Regions from separate parts of the Homo sapiens genome. Here region 2 is linked to region 1. Evidence: fine-mapped expression QTL. Tissue or cell type: whole blood. Region 1 holds a variant in brackets; the other region holds the start of a gene. All regions are shown on one strand. Distances are between the middles of the regions.

The links. PIP is the estimated chance that this variant, and not a neighbour inherited with it, causes the effect.
Region 2: IPMK starts here. The variant in region 1 is fine-mapped to the expression of IPMK in whole blood (INTERVAL, PIP 0.91).

What each region holds. Positions count from the first base shown.
Region 1 is chr10:58,398,359-58,404,272 of GRCh38, forward strand. It overlaps TFAM (transcription factor A, mitochondrial), which reads left to right. Exons shown (of 7, transcript NM_003201.3): 7 at 1-862. Among named protein-coding and RNA genes, the nearest start is that of TFAM, 16 kb to the left of the region's middle. The variant G/A (reference allele first, on the strand shown) is at 2,108.
Region 2 is chr10:58,264,900-58,270,437 of GRCh38, forward strand. It overlaps IPMK (inositol polyphosphate multikinase), which reads right to left and starts at 2,995. Exons shown (of 6, transcript NM_152230.5): 1 at 2,523-2,995. The coding sequence starts at 2,712. It overlaps CISD1 (CDGSH iron sulfur domain 1), which reads left to right and starts at 4,263. Exons shown (of 3, transcript NM_018464.5): 1 at 4,263-4,405. The coding sequence starts at 4,375. RefSeq lists enhancers at 2,166-2,275, 2,230-2,524, 3,969-4,525, 4,371-4,420 and silencers at 2,776-3,285, 3,991-4,050, 4,641-4,690.

The DNA.
Region 1 (5,914 bases):
TATACTTTTGTTCTTTGGAGTACCAATGTTAGGTTTTACAAAAGTAATTTGATGAGGGGAAGGAGGGTTGTGTATTTATTTTACTTTCTGATGTTTGCTTAAATAATACTGTGTACGTATTCAGCTTGCTGTAATTCTGTAATTACGCTATTGCGTTTGGCTAACTCCTTTTTGGAAATGTCTTTTTTTTTGTACAAGGCATGTGTTAGTTTTTACTAATTGCTCTGAATGTGTATATTTAGATTTCTGAATTGAAAAAAAATAGCGTACAATAAGTAGATTTAAAGTAATTAGAACACTTTATTGATTTTTCTGATGTTTTCTGTATCTAAAATTTATCACCACCAGGTTGTGCTAAAACAGCAGGAAGTTTTTATATTGTGAGTGACAGTACCCATTATTTCTCTTAATTTTACTAACATTTACTATAAGAATATTCTCTCGCTCTTTTCTCCACTCACAGCCATTCTCCCTCCTTCTCTTCATAACATCAAGCTGTCACAGACAAATCTGAAAATGTTACAAGCACAGACTATGTTGTATGTTTTGAAATTTTAGAACAGTAATGTTCTTTTTAAAATTGAACTTCTGCAGAGTAAGAAAATGAATACATTTATTACTTTAAATTTGTAAAATTTTCCAAAGTAAAACCATACAAAGCTAGTGTCAGTCTCTCTCATTGTTCACAAATAAAGGACTTTTGTTAATTGATTAAATCACTTACTATATTCGATATGAAATATATAAAACATACAACCATTATCTAATACATTTCAGAATGTTTCACTGGTTACAGGAGCCAGTAAATAAAGTTGACTCTAAACAGGAATTTTAAATAAACTAAACATTTTTTCATCACCAAGCATCATTTATATATTGGTTTCTGATTTACATATGTGATGTCTAAGAAAATCTCTGACTTTATTCTTTTTTGCCTGTATTAATTTAAAATTTATCCCATTTCGTCTCCCCCTTCCCACAAATCAGGTATACAATGGGGGAAGAGGGAAAGGAGTACATAGTTTTGACACAGTGACCTTTTATTATATAGGTTACCAACTGCTAGCCTTCATATTTTTAGAAAGGGCAGTTTTGATTAGACCCATCTATGAGGTTCTGTTTTTTTTTTTACTGGAAATTTCATGCGTTAAATGTTGGGTAGGATTAAGTGATGAGACGACGGGTCCAAATGTATTAATCACTGGGAAGTGTTGAAGTATTACCGACCATCTTACTCATTTCTTTATTTTTTCCTCTCAGTCACCAGTCAGAACAGGTCATCAGTAGTTGTGTAACTAAGATGAACAGGAACTTTGGTGTCAGGGGATACTTAGTGATGCCAGTAGTTTTTCCAAGCTTGAATTTATACTGTGACTATCAGGCAATATTTAGATGGGGGTAATGGAAACTTTTTTAAAGTATAGGAATTTTCTCCTTATGCTGACATAAGTAACATCTGATGCTGTAGAAGCTTAGTATCAAATATTAATTGGACTGAAATAGTTCAGAATATTTTCCCAAAATGATTTCCTCCCACTCAGTTTTTACTTTTGCAGAGCTTCTACTTACCATTTGTAGTAACCTGAATGACAATAAAATGGTGAAAAAAAGATTTGAAATGGTGAAACCGCCTTCTTCCAGATATCATTCAGGTGACTAAAATGCAAAACCAAGTACAATAGACAAATAATAGCAACACTAGAAAACAAGAAATACTACCGTCAATAGAGCAGCAATTTCTAGGTATTTTTGGAAGACAGGAGGGACATAGGGATTGACAGGTGTTTGTTGGTGTCAGTGTGAGCAAACCACGTAAGCTGAGTGAAGCAGAAATGGAGAGGTCTCACCAATTCTGAGTAGTGAGGGCTAGTAACAAAGATTAACCCTAAGGTGGGTGGACATGGGTGTGTGGTGGCTGGTTCCTGTAGTCGCAGCTACTCAGGAGGCTGAGATGGGAGGATCACTTGACCTAGGAGTTCAAGTCAAGCCTGGGCAACATGGCAGGACCCTATCTTTAAAAAAAAAAAAAAAAAAAAAAAGGCCCTTAAGGTGGTTGGAGAGAAATTACAGGGTGCATGGGGCAGGAGAGGGGTAGGTATCAGTAGAC[G/A]TAAGGTTTGCTTTTTTCTCCCCAGTGAATATTTTACTCAAAACTGAGGAAAGTAGAGTGATACGCTACTGCAGAATAGGTTTTTTGTTTTTTTTTTCAAGCCGGGTGCTGTGATTCTTGACTATGGCTGAGTAGAATCAACCGTCAGTGCATGCAGATAGCTGGGCCAGAATCTGGAGGGTGGAACTGGCCATTTAAAAAAGTTCTTTAGATTTAATAATGTGGAGCTATCATTGGTGGGAGTAGTATTATAACTCAGAGCTTCCTAACTTCCTAAGCTGGCAGTTCAGTAGTGGCTGATAATGAGTGAATCATGTATATGGCAATCTTACACTTGTTATTGTATGTCTTTTTTATAGCCATCCTAGTGGGTTTGAAGTATCTCGTGATTTTGATGTGTTTACATTCTGACTAATGATGTTGAGCATTTTTTTATGTACTTCTTGGCCACTTGTATTTCTTTGGAAAATTATCTATTCCAGTTCTTTGCCCATTTTGAAATGGGTTATCTCATTTATTACAGTTTCAGGAGTTCTGTATATATAATAGACATAAAGCCACTATAAAATAAATTAATTACAAATATTTTCTCCCATTCCAGGAATTGTTTTTTCACTTTATTGATGGTATCAGTTGCAGCACAATAATTTTAATTTTGATGGGGTCCAGTTTATCTATTTCATTTTGTTGCTTGTGCTTTTGGTGTCATATCCAAGAGACCATTGCAAAATTGAAGATTATGAAGATTTACCCCCAGTATTTTCTTCTGTTTTATAGTTTTAGCTCTTGCATGTAGGTCTATCCATTTTGAGTTAATTTTTGTGTATGATGTGAGATAGGTGTCTAGCTTCATTCTTTCACCTGTGGATATCTGTTTTCCTAGCACCATTTGTTGAAAAGATTATTTTTTCTCTGTTGAATTGTCTTGACACCCTGGTGAAAAATCGATTGACCACAGATCTATGGGTTTATATCTGAAGTCTCAATTCTATTACATTGATTTATATGTCGTCTTTATGCCAGTATGACATTGTCTTGACTACTGTAATTTGTTATAAATTTTATAATAGGAAATCTGAGATCTCCAACTTTGATTTTTTTGAAGATTGTTTTAACTACTCTGGATCTCTTTCATATTCATCTGAATTTTAGGATCAGCTTGTCAATTTCTGTAAAGAAACCAGCTGGGTTTTGATAGGGATATATTGGATCTGTAATTAAAGTTGGTGCTTTTGTATATTAGTTTCTAGTATTCTGTGTCATCAGTGGCATCTTCATATTAACTTGCTTATGGCAGATTATAAATTTGTTCTCTACATAATTTTGGAGCATGATTGTGGGCTAACCTGCCAGTGAGAGTGGCTGCTGTGCAGCTGACAGTCTTCTATATTTGTGGAAAGGCAGGAGAAACAGCACGTTCAATTGCCTCGTGTTAGGATGGACAGAATTCGGTTAATTCAAGAGATATTTGAGAAGTTGAATCCACAGGACTTGATAATTGATGGAGTGTGAGAGATAAGGTAGAGAAAGATAGAAAAGGTTATGCTTAAGTTTCTTTGGGCAGCCAAGATGGGGAATGTTGAAGAAGGAGCTGAATTCCTTCAATTTGATCATTTCTCTACCTAGACCTATAGATTTCTGGTCCCTCTAGGTTATTGTATCCAGGGCTCTAAAGGCAGAACAAGGCTAGGATTTAGGATGCAGGCATGCATACAAAAATATGTTAAAGCTGGAAGGGTTGATAGAGTTACTACATTAGGCATAGCCAAGGCTTTATTTATATAGAGACAAACATAAGAGCTCTGAATGCATCCAAAGAAATCAGAGCTTGTATCCAAGGACATCAATGCTATTGGGGACAGAAAGGTGAGACATCAGTACTGTAAGTGACAACAGACAGCCTGAGATGTCAGTGTAGGCAGAAGTTAGGCTGGGGTCTCCAGAATCAGATGTTCAACTGACAGCAAGTGTGAAGGAGGACTTTGTCAGGGAGAACTGGGATCAGTTTCCAGAACCAGGAGAGTAGAATAAATAACATCATCTACCTGGAGTCTGAAGTTCATCCAAACTAGTGTTTATCAAAGAAATTTTAAGAATCATCTGTAAAACACGTAAAATGGAAATTCCTGGATCTCTCAGCAGGTCAACAAGAGGCTCAAGTGATCCTGCCACAGATGGAATATTGATCGTAATTTAAGAAACACTGATGAAACTATCAAAAAGACCAATTTCATGATGAATCAGCAAGCTACTAGGACATACGTCCTCTGTTGACATCTAGGACAAATCTTAATGTATGAATGGAGATTGGGGTTATCTACAAGGAATGGAGCTGTTACCAGAAAGGGGATCTTGATTCAGACCCCAATAGAGGCTTGGATCTTGCACAGGAAAGAATTCAAGATGAGTTGCAAAGTGCAGTGAGAAGAGATAGTTTATTGAAAGCTACTCCATTCCAGAGTAGGCATCCTCAGAAAACAAGCAGAGGAATGCACTGTCTTTAAGTTTTTCTTATATAGGGGTCTTCTCTATGTAAAGACTAAGGTGTGCGTACAGGTGGATAGACAGATAGCATGACAAAATTTAGTACTTTATTGATTTAAGGAAATCCATCCTTGGCCAGGTGCGGTGGCTCACGCCTGTAATCCCAGCACTTTGGGAGGCCTAGATGGGCGGATCATTTGAGGCCAGGAGTTCAAGACCAGCCTGGCCAACATGGCGAAACCCCATCTCTACTACGAAATACAAAAATTAGCCAGGCATGGTGGCACACACCTGTAATCCCAGCTATTCAAGAGGTTGAGGCAGGAGAATCATTTGAACCCGGGAAGCGGAGGTTGCAGTGAACCAAGATCATGCCACTGCACTCCAGCTTGGGTGACAGAGCCAAACTCCATCTCAGATAAATAAATAAATAACTCTGTGTTTGACTTCTTAGTGTGTAAGTGCATCAAAGCATAACTATAATTCTTGGAAGCATATATTGTTATGAGTATTGGGACTTCTGGACTTTCTGCTGTAGGAGTTTGTTCTTACAGGTGTCTTTAAGCTGTTTTCTTAGCTGTGAACATCTTAGTTCTATGGGTCATGACTGGGAAGTTTAAGATGGAGTTGATTTTAAAATGGTGTCACTCTGGCTCTTCTAGGCTTCTGCTTCCCTAATACAGTCACACTAGATAGATCTTTGGCCAGTCATGTCCTGTCATCCTCTAAATCAGGGTTTCTTGACCTGATTGGTGGGGAGGGAGGGCAGAGCAGTTTGCCTCAGAACATTTGGCATTATTCTGAGAAATACATGATTGTCATGACTGGGGAGGGTACTACTGGCATCTAGTGGGTAGAGGACAAGGATGCTGCAGAGTCATCCCCATAGCAAAGAATTGTCCAGTCCCAAACATCAGTCTTGCTGCTGTTGAGAAAGCCTGCTCTATATCCTGAAGGATCTTGTGATAAAGAGAAGAGTAATTGCTTCCTAGGTTCAAGAGACATGGCTAAGGTAGTTCTAACTCTTTTTCTGGGGGGCTGCTACAATTAGCAATATCCACACCACTACCGAAAGAAATACTAAACTTTTTGGAAAGAGAAGGATTGGGGAGAAGTGTGTGCAATGAGACAGGAAAGCCCCAGGAACTCCCCTGAAGTCTTTTCCATGAAGACTGATCCATGACAACAGCTGTGTGCATGGTATTAGAAATCCCTGTGGAAAGTGACCAGTAAAGAGAGCTTGTACTTGTGTAACAGTTTAGTTTACAAAGCACTTGTGTATTGCTTAGCTTCTTCTTTGCCTTGGGAAGTAACCAGGATTAT
Region 2 (5,538 bases), 130 kb before region 1:
CAGAAACAAAGGCCTGAAAGGATAGACAGGAAGTAGTTACCAGTGATTGCCCCTGGGAGAATGAGTAGGGGGAAGGGCACTACTTAAACTGAATTTTTTTCCTAAAAGATCCGTGTACTATACAATTTTTACAGTTTAAAAAACAAAATACTTTGTATTCTTAGAACTAAGATTTAAATGTATTTTGATGAAATATGGTTTCAGTGAAGAACACAAAATATAACGGATGTCTGAACTACTAATATATGCTTGTTACTTAGCATATATAACAAGATCTATTTTTCTGTTCAAGCACCTTTGTTCTATCAAGTTCCATGAGTTTAATTTTTAAACTAACAAAGCCAACAACTCCTTTTTGGAAATAGGTAAAATAATTCTAAATGGAACATTTCTGGTTACTTACTGATAGTAACACAAATTTAAAAACAAAACAAATACCAACATAACGTCCTTAACAAAGCTTATCCTGAGAATTATTTCAATTGACAGACCAAAGCATGATCTAAATGATGTAAACTGTACATGACTTATGACAGTGGAGAAACATAATAAAACTGTTGAACTTTGAATTAGTGACCATCTTATCCATTTTACAAATAGGGAATATATCATCAGTCAAGTATCCTTTTACTTAACAATACAGTCAGGATTGTATAACTATCTGAGAATTAAATTCAACAAATATTAGGTTGCTAGCACAGTATGTTTAAGCCATTCTACTATGGTGACACAAACACTGTCCCTACTCAAAAGACCCTTATGAAATTGCAAAAAAAGTTTATTTTACACTGAATGCCATAATAAAATTAAGGACTACTACCTCTAGAATCTAAACTTTTCCATTAATTAGGCAATTTGGGTGACAAATTAACTTTTCAGCCACTATTTGCAATCACTCTGAATGGGATCACTATTACATACTGTAATAAGCAGTGGTTACACTCTTAAGTGACAATTATTTAGATTGTTTTTATGTTGAGATTTTTAAAATCTATTCTCCTTTGCATATAAGTCAATCTCTAGGGACCTTTAGGGAAACATTTACTTTTTCAGGCATCTAGAATATTATTAGGAATAGTAAAATCACAATGTATTAATATAAATCAATAGGCATTCCTCTATTAACAGAAACCCCATGAGTACTCTCAAATTCTCATTACAAGACACTGGCACACAGGAGGAAATGTCTATGCTGAGCAACTTGAGGACGTTGTTTCTTTACCTCGGTATACTAAAACAACTGTCAATTTTCACTATTCAATATTTCCTGAGTGTTACTGATTCCCAGTCCGTGCACAAGGCTATGAGAGAATACAGATTCTCTCTCTAACATCTAGGAATTCACAATTCAGTGGGGAGAAAGGCACACAAACAAAGTAGGTAAAAATAAAAGTAGTGGAAAATGTCGCTTTGAGAAATAGCATATACTCAAATTAATACTTATCCATTTTCTAAAAGCCTTGAGTTGTTTCAGCAAACACAATACATGGTGAAAAAATACAGTACTCAAAGGAAGAACTCTTGGTTTCACAATTCTTAACATATTGTAACGTGACTTCAGGCACGTCATTCTTAACCAGGGTTGGCCTTAGTCACCTCGTCTAAAAATGTCAGTATTAGCAACCTAAACCCGAATCGTTTTACCGGCATAAACTAAATTGTCTCTAGTGGCTCTTCCGGGTCAAAGATCCACAATACTCACATACTCATCCATCAGATTACCCCAGTAATCATGGCCCAGGGAACCACTACGGGTAAACTAGATGAATTAGAGTTCCTAAACTGAGATAGGCTTTAAACTTGTGAACTCAGAAAATGTATTACAGTGGCCATGATACAGCCTTATAAAATGAACAAGAATAGCTGAACATTTTGTGTATCATTCTGGTACAATATGCGTGTGAATTTCCCACCAGGAATCCGAGTTTCTGCACTACTGGAACCACGCCTCCCAGAGAAATCAAGGAGACACCAGAAAAACCTCCTCAAGGGACAGGGAAAAATCACGGACAAGCTTTCTTCCCTTCTCACCTCCCCCTAAAAAAGCCCAGTGTTTTTCTTCCCCTCCAGCTATGCAGCTGCACCCAGCAGAGAAGTACTAGATTAGCATCATCTGCATTTCATTCCTTTTCTTTTGCAATAGCTACTCGCCTATAATAAACAGACCTTGTGCTCAAGGGAGAATTTACTTCCCCGTCCAGTAAAAATGAAGTTCCTTATTTTCACTAACAACGCCGTCTCCAATCAACACCCAACCTCCCTGGGGGGTGGGTGAGACCAGACACGCCTCTCCCTGCCACCCGTGCTGCAAGCCTGACGACCCACACCCTAGGAATTGTCCCACTTTCCGAGCCCCTTCTGCTCGAGTGGCGAGGCTTCGGGGGACAGCGGAAGAGGCCAGGGATTTGGCGTGCACACCAGGGGGGCGTCCAGGCAGGCCCGAGAGCGCTAGGCTGCCTCCGCTGACAGGGGGCTCGCACAGGCGGAAGGGGAGCGGCGAGACCTATGCCACCCCCACTTACCCACTTTGTCCTTCCCGTACATGTGCCCGGCCACCTGATGCGAGAGGGGCACGCAGCCGTTGAGGAAGCGGAGTCTGCCGCCCGCCGGCTGCGGGGTGCCCTCAGGGGTGGACTCGATCGCCGGTGAGGTCCGCATTTCTGGGGGGCCCGGCGCCTCGACCCGGAGGGGGGATGGTGGCTCTGTTGCCATAACGGAGAGCAGAAGCGGTAACGGCAGCGAGAGTAGGAAAAAAAATAGGGCGAGGGAGGGGGCGCCGGAGAACCCGAGGGTCGCTCAGGCTCGGGCGCGAGGAGGCCCGGGGGTTCCCGCGGCTGGTGCCCTCTGAAGCGCGGGGAGGGGGCCCATGACGCCGCCGGGGCGCGGGCGCTCCTCTGCCCAACTCTCGGCGGAACGCGGCTCCCGGCTCCTGTTCCTCTGCCGCCGCAGCCGCCGGCCCCGGCGCTGCCCGGTAGACAGAACCGAGCCGAAGAACAGCAGCAGCGGCGCCCCGCGCTCCCTGGGGCCCTGACGGCGACGGCGGNCCCACCTCCTGCGCCCCCGCCCCCTCCCGCCGTCCTCCAGTCCCCTCAGCTGCCGCGCGCGCGTCACCGCCGCCCGCACCGCCGCTGCCGCCGCTACTGAGCATGCCCAGAGGCCGTCCAACGGGATTCCGGCCCCCCAAGTCAGCGGGGCGGGCGCGCCGTGCTGCCAGGACCTGGCGACGGCGACAGGGATAGGGCGAGCGCACCCCTGTTTCTTCTCACCCCCACCCCGCGGGCATTTCGAAGTCACGCGTGCTGCTGTGGCCTCATTCATTCAACACGCTTCTCAGCGCGTCAGCTCAGAGAAGCCAGGGACTTCTAAGTGTGCGGAGCAGTCCGGCAAGAATTGGAAGGCACTAGCATTGCCAAGGGTGGCTCTAAAGGCCACCCCTAACTGCACTCAACTCCCTCCAACTCCCACCCCGCACGAAAACAACAGAAGTAAAAGCAGGCAGCTTATTAGAGATGCGCCTTCAAAATACCCTTCGAGTTAATCTCAGCCCCCCTCCCCGGATTGCTGTCTCTAAACCGCTCTTACCAAAAAGTAAAACACATAAAAATAAAATAAAATTGGAACCGACACGAATTTCAGACTGTAGAAGACAGAGAAAACTTCTAATTTTTTTAAGTGAACATGTTTTTTAAAGAAAGGAGCAAGTTTTTTCTCTCCCACTCGACCTTTAAGATAGTGCAGGTTCCAAGGTCCTGAGTAGATAATTATATCAAAAGCAGAAAGGGATGGACACCGGTAGCTACGCGAGGTTCTGGAATGGGACTCAGTCATTGATTCCTGTATGTCCGCCGCTGGCATGTTATATAAAAGCTGGACCTGGCCTTGAAGGTAAATCGTCACAAGCCCCGAGCAAGAAAAACTGGGGTCAAATCTTAGGTATCTGATTAAAGTAAGTGTCCTATTAACACCTGTTTCTGCCCCCAGAAGCCCACACACCTGGAAGAGACGTAAAATCTGGCCTGGATTCCCTAATCCCAGGGCCCTGCCCCTCGGCTTCAGGGCCCCGCCCCTCGGCTTCAGGGCCCCGCCCCTCGGCGTTGCGCAAACTCTGTTGCTACCTAAGTCTTTTCCTCCTCCCACCTCCCGTAGCTGTCAAAATCCGGAGTCCAGACTTCCTTATGGCCAGGACAGCTCCACGCATGCTCAGCACCTACCAGGGTCGAGCTCACACACGTGCCTACGACCCGCCGCGGCGCCTGCGCGGTAGCATCGCGGAGTCGGTGCTTTAGTACGCCGCTGGCACCTTTACTCTCGCCGGCCGCGCGAACCCGTTTGAGCTCGGTATCCTAGTGCACACGCCTTGCAAGCGACGGCGCCATGAGTCTGACTTCCAGTTCCAGCGTACGAGGTGAAGTGGGGCCTGGGAGCGGGTGAGGCTGGTGAGGCTCAGCGGTTGCCGCGCCCGCAGTTCGACTGGGTTGTTTTACCACTGCCCTACGCGCCCGCCGGTCCTATAACCTTGAGATGCAGAAGGGCAAGCGCTCGGCCCGGCTGCGGGCTCCGGGCCGGACAGCGAAAGGGGGCGAGGTCAGGGATGGATTGATGGTTTGGGGCCATGCCGGACCAGAGTCCACGTTTACCCCAGCTAGCCAAACCCTAACACCTAATGACCGCGCCGCTAGCTTTTCTTGTTCACCCCTAAGACGCTTTCATGTCCTTAAGTCACATAGCCTGGAAAAGAAGGAAAGGTGGGAGAAAACAACAGCAAACCTGTTTGCCCTTCTCATGTTTCAGTCAGCGTCGGGCCACAACGTCGATTTCCTGCAATCCTGAAGCATTGCGTGACTAATCACATCTTAGTTTTGCAGATTTTTTTTTAAGGGATGAAACGCAATCCGAGGTTTTCAGTTTTCCCGGTTTTTTATTATTCCTCTGGCATCTGACACTCGGTGGCAGTAGTCCAGGATAAAGGATTGAAAACTGCGTTCGTTGAACCTTCAGCTTTCTGAGTCTTCTTTCCCCTGTGCTAGTACCTAGCGTTTGGAAACAGTATTTCGCAGAAAGTCCCGTTATAATAAAATTAAGAGACTTTATAAGCAGTCATTTAATGTGGAGTTTCACTTTATAACCATTCTTGGTGATGTTATAATTGTTAATATAATACTGTGTACCAGACACACAATATATGTGATCTTTGCCCCTCTATAAAACGCCACTTCGCAAGGTTTTGAGTAAAGGCAAAGAGACTGTCTAGAGGTTAATTAAAAATACGTTCAGTAAATATTGAACATCTGTAGTGCCAGGTAATAAAAAGTCCCTACTAACTTGAGCCCTAATTTTTTAATAGGTAGTTTCCAAAAATTGGAGAGTTCCACTTCTGTTGACAAAATTTACCTGGCTAAGGGTGATATTCCATGACATTTCGAAGTTACTAATGATATAGAGATTATTATTTGCAAAAATTATATTAAAGGATACTCATCTTGAGACTTTTTTTAATAGAGGCAGCTTGGTGCATTTAAAATAGGGTGTGATTTTTGT